3 separate regions of the Homo sapiens genome follow, and regions 1 and 3 are each linked to region 2. The links come from fine-mapping of genetic effects on gene expression. A gene starts in region 2. Each other region holds a variant in brackets. All regions are shown on one strand. Distances are from middle to middle.

Region 1 (5,229 bases), 82 kb after region 2:
CATGTCAAAACAGACTGCCCTTCAACCCAGAGTGATTACCTATGCCCCCTCCCAGTACCTGGAGGCATTACATCTTCTGCAGTTTTGAAGAGCTGGTACTTCTTCAGAGTCCTGAATCTCTTTTCTAAAGGACTGAGACACTTACAGAGATCTCATATTAATCTGAGGTCATGTCTCATATTAATCTGAAGTTGGAGGGGAGGAGTCTGTTCCTAGGCCTGACTCACATTCTTCTGAGTGTTGGAGTCTAGTCTCTTGGATGAACTGCTTACATACCATAGGACCTCCCCTTCTCAGCATCTTATCTCATGACTGAGAAAATGGCAACAGTGTGCAGTCAGTGGGCCACCAAATATTTTGTGAACTTCTAATGTGTGTAAACCACAATATTCTGTACTTAGGGGACATACTAGGATAGAGCATAATTATTTGTTTGCAGGAACCCGTACACAAACAAGGAAGCTAAGATATACTGGAATTATCTCAGCCTGAGACAGTAGAGGAGTAGGGCCATGGGAGATAAGCACTGTAAAAGTGGGGGAGAGAGAAATCATTTCTGATGGGATGATCAAGGAAGGTTTCATGGATGAATTGACATTTGAAATTAACTTTGAGTAACAGATAGGATTTTTGGTATTTGAAGATTAGAGAGGTTTTTTTTTTTCTAGGCAAAAGAAATTACATCAGCAAAATAATGATTTTGAAAAATTATTAATATGAAAATATCATATTAATTTGTGTTCTGGGCTCTATGGGTAAACTCTCAACCAAAACACATTTTGCTTTATGTCCCCTTAAATATATTTTTCCTTGAGCCCCTATTGATAGGGCATAATGTTACATTCTCTTTTGCTGTCTTTGATTAAAGAGCAGAGACACAATTGTGCCAGATAATTTGCCTTGAGTCTTCAGGTGGTCTGTTATTACAGACTTCTTAGTGTATTATGAAAGTCAGCAAGAAACAAAGAGTGTAAGTTGCATAAACAACTTCTATTTCTCCTATTCTAAATCGAGCTTATTGCTCAGCAAGTAAGAGATACAAAAGAAGTTGTGAGTGAGATATAGTGTAGAAGTTCTCTGTTTTTTTAGAATGATAAGGAATTATTTTTTTTTTTGCCATAAGTGTCACAGCATGTCTCAAAAGCAGACTGTCTACCCCTAATTCATTCAACTACTTTGGCTATAGTGACAATATAGCATCTGTGTATGTGACATAGTGGGGCTCAAGCGATGACTTTTGGTCCAAATTGAATGTAAATTGTGCATTTATGTAGTAATAAGAAATGCAAGTTGAATCATTTGAAGTATATTTCAAATCCCATATCATGTGCTAATAAAGCCAAGGGCTCTTACTTTTTTTTTGGTGATATCACTTCCTAATACTGAGTATGTTGTATCTTTTACAATTGTGTAGGGAAATGTAATAAAATAATGAGGCTTACCAGTGGTTTGCTACCAAGATTTATTTTACCTTTCCTGCATTCATCGTAGTCAATTTCTATTGAAAGGATATTTGAAAAAGAAAATTTTTCTGACCTAATATGACTATATTTTCTTGGACTGCCCTTAATGGTATGTTTTTACTTTTGCATCACATCTCCTGGAAGATGCCTCTTTTTCTAGAAATGGGACCAGATGCCTTTTGTACTCCTTTAAACCCTTAGTTTAAACCTCTTTTTGAATAATGTGTTCCATGTGTTTATTTCAATTTGCATGATGTATCTGTTCCTGAGTTCCTTTTTTTATTGCAAGTTTCCTGATTTTTAGAATATAACTTTTGTGAACCTTTGTTGAACCATGCTCCCATAGGCTTAGTTTCCAGATTGCAATTCAGAACATTTCTCTTGTTCTCTCTCTCTTCCCCTCCCTCCCTCCCTCTTTTCCTCCCTCCCTCCCTCCTTCCCCTCCTTCTTCTCTCTTTCTCTTTATATCTTTCCAAATAAGGGGAGGACATTGAGGCATTTAAAAAGGGTGGACATGACTTTTATTAAGTACTTTGGCATTTACTCTAAAGAAAATGTTTGAGGGTTTGTTTGGCATAGTTTTCAGTGTCCAGATTTTGGCATGCTAAATTAGAGTGCTGTTTTTCCTTCGTATTCAGGATTAACATTTCTTTGTGAAATGATTCTCGAAGTGATTTACATTTATGCCCAATCACTCTGGGACTTCTTACCTGAGATACTCTACACAAAACCAAATACGTGCTCACATGGTGTACTCACTTGTAAACACTGGGCCTAGTACGCTGTCATGTGCCTGTATATGAAGCATCTCCTTTGACATAAGGCCTGGTCCAGTCTCCTCACGTTGCTACCTTCCCCATGCCAGCCAAGAATGGGACTTTCTCCCTGTCTGTTTTGCTGTCCCTGCTATTCAGTCACAGGACTTTGACTCCAAGGTCACTAACTGCTGATGCTACAGGCTCCTTATGGTAGCTTAAGTTTAAATAGGGAGCCTCTCTCCTTACCCAGAAAATGGCATCCAGAATGTTTCCTGTTCTCTTTCTATTTTGTTTTAAAACATTGCCAAAATGAATTTTATTTTAAAAGGCCGAGTTATTTTGGAAGCATTGAAGTACCAAGGTGTTTTTGAATGTTTATGGTTGCAGGACAAGCCAATTTGAAACCAAATGAATGTGTATAAAAATATCCCCCCTTGGCTAAGAGCATAAAAGCCAAAGTTCAACTTGTGGTGAATTTTTATTGCCAAATTATATACACCTCTGTGGACAAGGGTTGGTGATGAGATGTTCAATACCATCTGACCTCAAAGTGGCTGCTGCCCAGCTCATTTTGGGATCTAAAGAAGATCTAAAGTGCATATTTTTAGGACATCTGTGTGCTTTCAGCAGAAGAAAGTTGCTCTTTCTAGCATAGCTCTGTAGACTTACCTCCATTAGTGTTTTTACTAGGAAAGCTGGAAACTATAAAACTGTAACAACAACACAAAAAAATATATTGACG[A/G]GAGAAAAACAAGCATACTGTGCCAAAATCTATAAAGTGTTTCGATGACTGGGGTGGGAGGAAGGAGCCACTTTTTGATGTTCACTATTTATACAGCTGCCTATTTTGTGGTAAGAATTCATAGCAGCTGTGATACCTCTAAAACAGGAAACCACCAAGTCATTGTAATATTGATAGTTAAATGCCTTTTATGTTTTAATCACTCCCCATGCAGGAATGTAGACTCCTGAAGAATTTTTCCTCCTTGAGGGCCATCGTTTCGGCACTGCAGTCTAATTCCATCTATCGGTTAAAAAAGACTTGGGCTGCCGTCCCAAGGTAAGTTCCCAAGTGTTTGCTCTGCTTTTCTTTGGCCGGGATAATTAGTGGTTGTGATGAGTCCTCACCTTCAAAGCTTGTATCGCATAACTAGAGAAACATATTTGAAATCCTCTGTGTGTTTCAGGCAGGGTGCATCTTACACATAATCATTAATGACTTTTGAGGCAGGGCTCCTGCAGAAATCAAACTCATTCTAAGTATACCAAAGCCAAGATTATTGGCTTTGGGGATGATTTGAAGGATGTGCTTATTATCTGGATTTTGAGGGATAAGGTTGTGGAGTGATGAAGTTACAGCAATTTGCCATTACTTCTGGTTATTTTTCAGCCTCACTACAAAGCCCTAAGCTATTTTAGGACTCAAGGGGTAATGTGTGCAGATAGGACATTAGTTCTTGATGTTCAGTAGGAAACTATTTAGTTGTCCTTTTAGTTTCAGCATTTTAAAAACTATCTTATTGGCATTAAAAACCTTTAAATGTTCTTTCCTAAGTACCTGAAATTATTAACTGGCCACATCCTATGCTGTTTTTCTTCATATTTCTTGGTGCAACCGTTGGAATAATTAACAACTTGGTTTCCTGATTTTTGCACTACTGCCATCACTTCCATTTCCGGAACTTCACTGTAGATCAAAGAACTTTGTGCAAAGGAAGGAAAGGTGAGGGAGGGGGCAGTTCTGATTCTCTGTCACTACAGATTTAGAGGCTGGGGATTGTGTCATGAGTACAACTAGGCCAGCTACATTCAACAAGTTTGCCCAGGTTTGAACTAGTCAGGAAGTTAGGCTATATCAGGGAAGAATCTATAAATTCTGTATGGTCTATACCACATGTGGTATAGTCAGTTTCAGTTAGGAGGAGAGGGATGCCAGCTGGCTTCCCAGCCAGGCTGCCTTAGTGGGGCAGAATGGAAGGTCTGGGTCCTCAGTTTCATAAGTTTACTCAGAGTTGATCAAGCCCTAAGAGACTGGCATTGTTTGAATTTGCAAGAGCCCCAAGCTGGTAAACCAGAGTTTCATAAATTTATGCTGAAAAATGAGTGCCAGAATCCTCAAGCTTGCTGATAAGCTCATATTCTCGTTCAGGGGATAGTCTACTTGGTGTAAGCCAAATTATTTATTAGGTGATTCTTTGATGGGTAAAAAGAAAAAAATAAAGTGGATGTTTATAATGCCTCATGTTACAGAGCTGTAGAAGCCACAGCTACTTGCACTCCAAAGCTCGTGCTTTGTTTATGACATCAATATTTATCAGTAGAAGAACTAGCAGGCTTTTCAAAGACCAATGCAATTTTCTTGATTATTATTCTTTTTTTAGGTTCTTTCTTCTCTATTTTGAATAATCAAGGTGATTGTGTGTATTAAAGAGAGATTAGTTGGTTGATTTTCCTCTGCACATTTCTCCTTAAGAACGATGGGGTCATATAAAATCATTACTTGATAGGCCCTGGTGAAATGCGATGGGAAAATCAGAAGCATGCAGTGTCCCCACCCTTCACACCTCCACTTCACCTCTTCTTTCCCTTACCACCACTCTCCACTCAACTGTAGTATAGTATCAAAAACAAAGGGACAGTCAAGTGTTAAAATGTAGCCTTACTCAATTGATTGCAACCTTGTCTGATTGCCACGAAAGGTAATCCTTTCTTTGATGGTTGAAAAAAGAACACTAAGGAAAGTCACGTAACCAGCCTAAGATTTCTTCCACAGCAAGTTTGAGACTAAAACATGAGCAAAAAAAATTAATGGACTTGTATCTTAGTCTCCTTGGCTGCCATATGAAAAGATTTATTCTAGCTGGCTTTTAAAACTATTTTCTAAAGACAAAGGAAAAACCCTCTAAGCTGCATTCTGTGTAACATATGTTTCTGGTTTGTTTCTTAGTTGGTTTGTATGTGTTTTAGCAAGGACACTACAGAAGTGTCACAGTTCCTTAGAGAACACA
Region 2 (5,229 bases):
AAGGTAATATGGACTGAACTGCCTACTGATGAAATATTTTTAAATGAATATTAAAAAATTTGTAAACTGCAACACACAATTGCTCTATCTAGCATAAAGTCTGCCTCTTTTTTTGCAGAACAGCATTTGTACAAAATTACATACATTGTGAGGTGTAAATACAAATAGTTATTCTTGGAAAACCTCTCTGAAATTTTAAAGTAATTCCATGAGAAGACATCATTTCAGATTTCCTAGTGTTGCATACATAACACGCTTTTCACTGAGTCTGGATAAATATGGTTTGGGAGGAAGTACAATAAGGAGGCAGTGGAATTTTTTTGGATCACTTACCATGTGCTTGATGATTTGCATGCATTATTTCATTTGATCTCTTTCAAACTCTTTCAGGTAGATGGTTGTCCCATTTTGCAGATGAGGAAATTAAGGCTCAGGGTAGTAGCATTCAGGTTCACTCACTGCAAGGCTGGATGTGAAGCTGTATCCACTTGGCTTGAAGCTAGTTCTTTTCCCTTTACACACTAGGTGGCCAGCCAGGGAATTGGAGTACAGAGAAAGGTGAGTAGCTCTGAAACCTGAGTGGGGCCTTGTGAATTTAAGCCGCCCTGTCCAGGAAGGTTTCCTGGGAGAGTGAGGTTGAAGAAACTGCTTAATATCCCTGAAATGGAAATATTTCAGTTACTGCCAAATGTGTAGCCAAAAATCAGGTTAAAGTAGTGGTGAAGTTAATCTTACAGGTTGTTTAACTGTCCTCAGTTGCATTTCGTGGTGTCCAAGATCACCTAATAGGTCCTCTAGAGGTGGGCCTGGGTTCCTGAGGATGGCTTAACAAGCAGGGAGGTAGGGCCTTCACATGATTTTCCTCTGGTTCCCAGCAACATTCTGCCCTGATCATCATAGAAGGATTTAGTCTATGTGTTTTTCGTTCGTTTGTTTTTTAAATTATAGAACAACCACTTCAGCTTGCTAAAAGGGCATCTCCTCTCTATACAGTGATGGTGCCCTTAGGTTCTGGTTGTATGGGGATAACCTGGCTGAATGACTTGTAGATGTTCTCAAGTGTCCACAGATCCTTTTGTTTTTGCTTAATGTGCCCTTGCTGTCATTTATTCTGCTCTCCTGGGAACATCAGTACACTTGATTTGCTAAATTGTCAGCTCATGATATATTTACCATTAACCAAAACCCAGGCTTATGTCATAGTATGGCAATTAGTGGGAGACCTATTTTTTTTTTTATTTGAAGGTGATTAAATTCATTTAGGGTGAATAGTATGAAAGACATGAGCCCTAAAGGTATTTGCAATTTGCATGGAATTCTGGCAGGTGTCAAGTTTGACTGCATTATCTGGTATCTCTTGCTGTTGACTTGTTAAAACTGGATCTAAAAAAATGTAATAATCTTTTATCCCTATAGCAGATCTTTCCATTATGATAAAACTCCTGCTGGTAGTCATCTGATGAAGAACTTTTCCCTGTGGCTATGATCCTACTGTGTCCCTACAGTACAGGCAACTCAACCCATGGTGGCTACTCACAAAGACTCACAGAACCTCCAGGACACTGTCAGTCCTAGCAAAACCTTACCCTGCTTTGTTCCCTTCCCACCCCCAATGGCCAGTTACTGGGTAATTGGGGTGGTGAAAAGCCCAGCGCGATTTCCTGTTGGCAGTGTGCTGATGCAGGAGAGGGTATAGCCCCTGGGCATGGTTTTGGAATACCCGGGTGTCCTCTGACCTTATCCTCTGTCCTAATGAAAAACTTCCTGGCGTCTAGTATTGCGGCTCTCACTGGGGTCATTCTGACTTAATTATTCTAAAATCAAAATAGATAATAGGCAGATAATGGAAGTTTTTTGGACTTTCTCCTTCCATTGTTTTAGCGAAGGAAGAAGACACACACAAATCCTCCATCCCACACTCAGTTCTATTTTGGCACCTGGTGACCGTCAGGAAAACCTGATAAACTTGAAAGTGTTGTTTCCCAATCACCTTCAGAACTGGAGAAACGCTTTCATGCTGACTTTATCCATGGGACTGAAGAAAGGGAGAGTGTGCTCACAAGCACAAACAGGAAAGCCTTACATCACGGAGTGGCGTGGGGAGGAGTCTGCTCCTCGCTTGCTCGCTCGCTCGCCGCGCTCCCTTTGTGGCCCGAGTCGCGCGCACCGGCGGCGGCGGGGGCAGCGCGGCGCGTGTCTGTGCGCTGCGGTCGCTCGGGACCGGGACCGGGGCGAGGCGCCGCGGGGCTGAGCCCAGCAGACATTGCGTTGGCCTCCGAGCAGGGCGCATCATGCAGCGTTCGCGCACCGGAGAGAAAACTGAGAATGAAATTGCTTTGGCAAGCTAAAATGGTAACGAGAGCTCTCTGCCTTCTCCCGAGGCTTCTCTGGTGGGGAATCTTCTCCCGCTTTCGCTGGGCGTGTTTTGGACTCCCTCGGAGTGAACGGAGCAATCCGATTCCATACTTGTGAGCTAAAGCTCTCTCACTCCGCTTTGTATTCCTCTCTCTCTGCGTGTCTTCTCCCTTTCAACCGTACCTACTTTCTCAGCAATTGCCTGTGGTGTGTCTGGGGCAGATGCATGTCAGGAGGGGAGAACTTTGAAGGAAAAAGAACTGTTAGTGTGGGTGAACCGCGGAGCGCTTCTGCGTCCCAGCGGCTCTTTAACACAAACCTCAGGTTTAGCTGGGGACATGGAAATCCAGGGGGTCGCTGCACAGATTTTAGTAGAAGCTGCCTGATGATGTGTTGCTTTTTCTGCACTTGCCAGATTATTTTACGGAAATAAAAACTTTCCACCCCCGCTAACTTTGTGGGCTCCAAAACAATGAGGAGAAAAGACAAGCAAACCACTTCACTTCCAAAGGAGTGAGGACTCTTGGCGTTTTAAACACTTGTTTGTGTCTGAGTTTAAAATCTGGTTTCTTCAATGACCGAGCCACTCTAAAAAGTACAGACTTATTCTTTTCTTTTTTTCTTTTTCTTTTTCTTTTCTTTTCTTTTTTTTTTTTTTTTTTTTTTTTTTTTTTTTTTTTTTTTACAAAGAATTATTTTTCCTTTCACTTAAGGGGGACAAGTTAATCAGGACTAATCTAGTTTCTTTGTAAAGAAAAAGAAAGACTTCAAAACAAAACTATTTAAGATATGTGAGCAAGTCTAGGAGAAATAACTAAATGGAAAAGTCAGGGGATCCTGATACCACAGGAAGGGACTGCAAGCCAAGAAAATCTCAGCATTCCCTCTATCAAAATGTGTCTTGTATTGCGGATTGTAATATTTATTTTGAACAGCCCATCTTGTGCCCTGAGTGCTGTTGTAAGCAGCAAGGCAGCTGGGATAGATTGTGGTTAGCAGAGAGGAAAAAAATACTCTTTTTCTTTCTCTTTATCCCGTCCCTGGCAGAGCTCGATTCAGGACTGGGGTGAAGAGGTAGAGGAAGGAGCTGTTTACCATGTCACCCTCAAAAGAGTCCAGATTCAACAGGCTGCCAATAAAGGAGCAAGATGGCTAGGGGTGAGTAAAGCTGGCGAGATGGTGAACTTTGGAATTTCAGTGTCTGTCGTTCTGTGAATATCATTATTATTTAACAGAGGCAGGCTTTTTTTTTTTTCCTCTTTTCGCTTTAAAAAGGAAAATGCTAATGACCAAGTGTTTGCACTAGCTGAACAGGTCTCTTTTTGTATTTAATGTTTTCAAAAGCATCTTCCCTAGGTTTGTCAATAATTCAGAACCTCTTAGAAACATCTTGAGGTCTTTGGCAAATAGATTGGGGGTGGAGTGGCAGAAAATGACACACAGAATACAGGCCCAGAGAGCAGCACTCTCTTAGACAAGAGCCATAAGCAGCTTTGCCCAGAAGCCACCCTTGTCTCTCTCTGCCCTCCCCCAATTGATGCTGTCAGCGTCTGCCTTGCTCCTATATCTCTAGGAGGTACCCAGATTGCTCAGGAGACAGAGCATTCCAAGTCTGCATCCTTTGAGGGGTGGTAGATTTCCTATTGTGATCTCTTTTCTATATCTTGGGAGGAGGCAAATGGATGCTTAGTACCCACTACTTTGTGTGTAGAGTGGTGGGCCTTTGGAAAAATGCTGCTTCTGTAAACAGGACTCTTTTCCACTGAGATTGTAAAATATTGGGTGAGGTCATGCAAGTTTGTAGGTATCACCTAGTAGATCCTTCAACACATCCCAAATAAAGCGAATATGAGAAATGGAAAGCTCAGCGACAGGATCACTACTTGGGCAAATGTCAAACATGTGGAAGAATGAAGGGATTCTTGATCTGGAAGGAGAAGTAGTTCTCAGACCAGGCGGTGAGAGGCGACCCAAAAAGCCTTGAGAAAGAAAATAATGGTTGGCTGAATAGAGGGGGTGGAGTGTGATTTCACCTGGCTGGCCTTATTTTAGCCGATGGGCTTCAGAGTGTTGAAGATTTATGCACTTGCATCCCATCTTTAGCGGCTTGGAGTCTCTGAAAATTCAGAATATTTTGAGCAGCATTCAAAGGTGGAGTGTGAAGGAGGATAGGACACAAAATTGCACAGGGCCTCCTGTTAAGAGTAGTGGTAACGTGTGACTTGTAACTCCAGGGAGTTTAAGGCAGGATGGTGGCCCATGGCCGGCAGCAATCACTTCCTCTGCCATGAGTCTGCTGACACAGGCATTCATTGCTTTGGGCTTCCCCAGCTGCTTCAGCTCAGGCCTTTCCTGCTACTGTACTTTGGGCCAAGGTATCACCCATGAGGGCCAGAAATTGTTAATGACATCTGCAGGTGTGGTCTGGAAAGATAGGAGCTTTCCAGTGAGAACTAGAGGTCTTCACTTACCAAGTACCTACCTTACTCAGAATATGATTTTAAAATTAATTATGTATATCACTAGCAGACCTGATAGGGAAAGCAGAACTAGAGTTCTGACAAGTCATCACTTTGTTTTTGGTGGTTGTGTGTATGTATTTTATTTAAATGTGGCGTCCATGTGGTTTGGCCTCTAGCTATTTCAGAATGATTCACAACTTCTGAACCAGTTGTCTTCAAAAGGGTCATTACATTTTTTTGGTATCAGGTTATTCCTCTCTTTCTAATGAGACTGACTTTGCTTGGGTGACTGTTTTAGTTTTCAGCCATATACAACATTAGTTATGAGTAAGTCATTGGAAATGGAGGGGTTCACTCTGTAGGCCCCACATCTACAAACTGTCATGTATTTAGATGCTCAGAGTTATTTAGT
Region 3 (5,229 bases), 170 kb before region 2:
TTTTACCTATCAAACTACATTATAAACTCTTCTATGTCAAAGATAGCAAACAGTTAAAATATTGATTTTTTTTTGCAACTGCAGAGGATTTTACTAAGAATAAGATATCAGCAGAGATCACTGTGTTGTAGTCTGCGACTCACCTTCACTGCCTGACTCTTGGTGTTGATAGGGGGGTTCTTCAGAGCTGCCTGTAGGGCAGCTGTCATGTTTCCTGTGATGGAAGTTAAGGGTGTAACAGCAAAGGATGGCCCCCAGGAAAGCATTATAACCACTGGTTCTTATGACTTGATTTACATATAAAAAGAAAATTACTTTGGTCACTATGTTCAATACTGGAAATTCAATGTGTTGGTTTCCAGGATGTTAATCAAAGGCAAAATATCAAAAGCAAAATAGAACATTAGACTTTTTTTTAATAAAGCAAAGACTGTTTCACCCTTGGTTCTAACTATCAAGTGAACACCTTGATAGTCTTTCATTTCCCAGTGAGATACATATGCAAACATTACCTAGAGTGGTGTTAAAGAAATCCTAAAATATATATCAGAATTATTAGTCCCCCAAATGAAATAACCTATTATCAACCAAAATATGTCTTTTCCTGTGATTCTAATTGAAAAAATAAAGACCAAACTTTTGCTAGAACCATATTCTGTATTATCTGAAATGCTGGTAGAACATGCTGGCAGATTAGCAATCTGAATGATACACATTAGCAATCTCTCAATATTGATGAAAAGAGGCATCACAGAAGATGTAATAATTCATATGTCCCTTAGGTGGCAGCTTAATTTTTTGCTTTAGATATTTTCTCTCATATTTCACAAAGGTTATTCAAACTGTGTTAGACCATACCTATTAAATTCAGGCTCTCTTTGAAAGCACTAGTGAGTTAGCAAGCATGAGAAACAGAAGGCCAATCAGACTGTCAGAATGTACAAACATTCCCCTAAAAGGAAAACCACAGAGTTCACTTGTTCCTCCAACTCTAGTACCCCACCACTAGGGCTGTCTTTCCTGGCTGTATGTAACGGTAAGAAGAGACAGTATCTTTATATTTTAAGATGAACTGATCAAAAAGCAGATCCACTGATATGGATACAGCAGTACCATTTAAAAGTCACCACAAATTACCTAAAATACACTGGGGTTTCATAAAACACCATCTATCCATCACAAATAATGTTTTTAGGAAGCATGTTCACCATTTATTTTCTAAAGAAAAAGTTCTTACACAAAATCTCTGGTTGACAAGCTGTTATTTTCAAGGCTGCAGGGATTTCTAGAGAAGCATGCCTGATGTAGATTAGCTCATTTTTTATAACTCCAAGCACTTAAGTATTTAAATAATGCAAAAGAGCAACAGCTAATTAATTGTGAAAGTTGTGGCAAAGCACTATCTATATATTGATAAATGTCTAATGCTCTATTTAGGTGCCTTTAAAAAAGGATATTGTTGCCATTAAATATTTTCACTCTCATATTTCCCCACTATAACAGGACATTGTTGAGAGTCTTCCTTATGAATACACCCAAGAATTAGAAATGCATACAAATTCAGTGTCTGAGATTTTCTAAAACTACAGCTTCGGTTTTTTTGCAACATTTACATTTTTCTAAAAAAGATGTAATGCAAATGCGAAGCCAAAGTTATGAATATTCAAATATGCAAAAACAGAAACCGGGAACTGACTGCCATATTTTAACTAAAATGGAAACAATTTTAGGATTACAAAAATGATTCTGCTTTATACGAATGACTCATCTTCTATCTTATTCATTGGGGTTTATTTTAAATATTTCCAAGGATTCTCCACACGCATTCCCCGTTGTTTTTTCTATTGTCCTTTTCTTAGCAGGTAAAAGGCTCCAAGCTTCCTTCTAGGAGTTTTGTATTTTTTGTATTCATTCCCCTCCCCCAGTTAACAAATTCTGTACAATGTATATTTTGCCAAATCCCCTTCTTCTTCTTCTTTTTTTTTTTTTTTTAAAAAGGCCAATGGGCTGAAAGCACAGGGACCCTCAATTTTCGAACAGTCCCATCTCCCCCCGCCCCCCGGTAAGGAATAAACTACCTTAACGCTACCAATAACAAAAACACAACAAAAAACAAAACCACTAAGGAAAGATGCAGGTTCCCCACAATCAGAAATTTCTGGAGCTAATGTGACCCCAGGAAATCAGAGTTCTAGGAAGAAAAACTAAGGCGCTCGGCACCAGCCTTCCCCACCAGCCGGGGCCGCCTTCCCCAGCGCCGCGAGGGCGCGGCCGGCGGGACCAGTTCCCGAGGCAGGCAGGCACTCGGGTGCAACCTGAGGAATCTGGGGGCGTGGAAGGCGCGCGGGGGAGGGCAGGCTTCCAAGAGTGGGACCCTCGCGTCTCCTGCCGACTGGGTAGGAAACGGGGGCTTCCCCCTTGCCCTCTCAGAGCGGGCGATCCCAAAGAGACAGGTTAAGCCGCAGGTTGAGAGGGCAGCTCCGCGCCGGTGCCCCGCGGATCCTGCAGGCTCCCGGGTCCCAGGAGAAGGGCGGGCTGGGCTGGGCTGGGGTGGGGAGGGCGGTGAATGCAAGGATATTGCCGCAGGCAGGAGTCCACCTCGCCCTCGTCGGGCCCGGCCTGGCCGTCGCCCCCATCTTCTTCGTCCACGAACTTGTTCTCGTCATATTCATCCACGTCCACCTTCCGGAAGCGGGCCGACGACACTGTGTTCTTCGACATCCCAATCCCGACCAGCGGCAAAGGCCTCTTCTTGGCGCTGCCTCTACCTCAGCAAGCCCAGCCCAGCAACCCACTACCCGGCGCCTGATTCACTTCCCTCTTCCGCTCTGAGGCGTCGCCGACTGCCGCGGCTCGGACCGTTCTGGGCCTGCGCGCTAGCCCCGTTTCTTCCTCCTCAGGTTCGCGCTCCCTTGGCGCCTCCCACGCTGCCCCTGCTCTTCCACGGAGAGCGCGCGCGAGGGAAGGAGCGCGCAGGACACAGCGCGCAGGCGCGGGCTCTCCGCAGGCAAGGGGCGGGGCTGGGCGAAGGAGGCGGGGGCGAGAGGGAGGGCCAAAAGCTGGACCGCGGGCAGAGGTAAGAAGCGATTGGTCGTCCGATTGCGTCACGTGATTCTCGGTGGGGGGGTTCCCATAGAAACGCTTTTCTGCGG[T/C]CCAGTCTAGGGGGTCTCAGATTGGCGGGGATGGGCAGCAGCGGCAGGTGGCCTTGGCTTTTGCTGCAGCCGTCAACGACCTATCATCGGGGTCCTGCGTAAGGTCCGGCTGGCTGGGACTTGGCTGTGGGTGGGATGGACTGGCTGCCGGACCGAGTGCCCTGCAGTTGGTAGGAGTATGAGGCAGAGTGATGCACACCCGGGCGCCCAGCATCGTTCTAATTGCCGGAGACATTGCCTCAGACTGTGCGCTGCTAGAGGCTGCGTTCCTGAGCAGGAAGCCCGTTTCCTGGGATTGGAACTACCCTTCTTGGCCAGCGGGAAGTCCCCAAGGACGGAGTCGAAAGGTCAAATCTTATCTGTCAGTGCTGTGTGACAGCATCGCAACGGGATCTGCAGAACCTGAACTCGGTATCAAATCTATTGGGAGGGAGGGGAACGTGTCCGGGCAGGCGCTGGGGTCGGGTGGCAAAACTGGGGTGAATTTGTAGAATTTGGGAAAGGGTCATTGACATCTTAAAATAGGTGGTCGTTTGGAGCAAGAATGCTCGAAAGGGGTGAGGGTAGGTTAGGCTCTCTAGTGCTGGGGGAAAACAAAATGTGGAAGGATTGGTGGAAACCAGACCTTTAAGATTTATATTATGATTTGAGATTTATATGATTCCATCTAGGCCAGATTTAAAAAAATATTTGACATCCCCATTTCTGGAATGTAGGAGATAAAGGCACTAAGACGAAGGAAATGGTAGTTGTGCTGTGTGTATTACACTGAAGAACAAATATTTGCAGGATAAAATTAATTTGGACATTTGGCTGGACACTGCTCGGTATGGGTCCAGTTTAGTTGGACCTCGAGCAGAAGACTGGCTGTTGCCCTGTTGTGTACCACAATCTTTGGTTTCCAGTGCTGTGTTGAAAAGAGCACTAGGCTTAGAATCAGAAAACTCAGGCTTAAGTGTTGACTCTTCCACTCATAATGTTTGAACGAGACATGTCACTTAAAATTCTGTCTCAGATTCCTCATCACTGAAATGGAGCTAATAATGTGCACTTTACAAGATTGTTCTTAGGATTATATATCACGAAAGTGTTTCCAAGCTCTAAAATTCTACATAAATGTAAAATGCATGTTGCTTGTACCATTGGTTTTGGGACTAGTCTTATAAATTTCTTAATGATATATGGTGTTTTATCTCCTTCCTAGAAGAGATGGAAAGATTCTGAAGGGCAGAAACAGTTTTTCTTTTGTATCTTCCTTCCATATGACAAAAAGCTAAGCATGCAGAAGGGACTCGATACATGCTTGATGAATGAATGAAATGTGAAAGACCGTACAGTTTGAGAATCATACTGAGAATAATAAATCAGAAGAGGGAGAGAGATCTCAAAATTAAATATTTGTTGGATATATACATGTAAATACATATGTCCAGTCTTCTTTAAGTTCAAAAAAATACATATATAATGTGTGTATATTTATCTATGCAGTATATTATATATAAATAGAGAGTGGGAGAGAGACCTCGAGAATGGAATACATCCCTTTTTCTTGGGAAGAAGCAATGTGGTGTTTTTCTGTTCCCAATTAAACCACTCTTCTATAAGTATATCATTTAGGTGATAGAAGTAACATTGTTTAAATTAACATTCAAGTTATGAACACACACTGGTAAAAATTCTCTTAGGAATGCCTTAAGACAGCAAAGGAAAAATTTTTACCTGTTGGCAATATTTATTTTAAAAAGCCATATACCAAAGTATAAAATCATTACTATGGTGAATGGCGTTATATAACTTAGAATAAAGATTTTACAATTTTTTTTCAGTTTCAGTCTTTGCTAACTTTAGTAGATGCTAATCAGTATACTTTAGCTGTTAAAGGTGATTGTACTTTTTCTTCTTTTAAATCAAGATTTTTCTTTGAAGAGAAAATCGAACATTAGAGGCACTATTGACAGCAAATGGAAACAGGGATTCAAGAGCTAATATATCTCTTCTCTTACATTTCTATTCTTTTGTATTGCCTTATTTAGGAAATTTTTTATTTTCTTATTTGAGAACTATGAAAGAATCCCAG

The links.
Region 1: its variant is fine-mapped to the expression of RGL1 in T cells (TOPMed, PIP 0.94).
Region 3: its variant is fine-mapped to the expression of RGL1 in whole blood (TOPMed, PIP above 0.99).

Annotation. Positions count from the first base shown.
Region 1 is chr1:183,885,297-183,890,525 of GRCh38, forward strand. RGL1 (ral guanine nucleotide dissociation stimulator like 1) reads left to right here. Exons shown (of 18, transcript NM_001297671.3): 8 at 3,178-3,281. Among named protein-coding and RNA genes, the nearest start is that of RGL1, 83 kb to the left of the region's middle. The variant A/G (reference allele first, on the strand shown) is at 2,964.
Region 2 is chr1:183,802,973-183,808,201 of GRCh38, forward strand. It overlaps RGL1 (ral guanine nucleotide dissociation stimulator like 1), which reads left to right and starts at 2,148. Exons shown (of 18, transcript NM_001297671.3): 1 at 2,148-2,352; 2 at 3,403-3,513. The coding sequence starts at 2,326. RefSeq lists enhancers at 3,768-3,827, 4,571-4,620.
Region 3 is chr1:183,632,939-183,638,167 of GRCh38, forward strand. ARPC5 (actin related protein 2/3 complex subunit 5) reads right to left here and starts at 2,845. Exons shown (of 4, transcript NM_005717.4): 1 at 2,579-2,845; 2 at 144-216. The coding sequence starts at 2,721. It also overlaps a transcript of RGL1 not described here. RefSeq lists enhancers at 2,041-2,541, 2,539-2,818 and silencers at 2,129-2,347, 2,299-2,358, 2,439-2,488, 2,969-3,128. The variant T/C (reference allele first, on the strand shown) is at 3,153.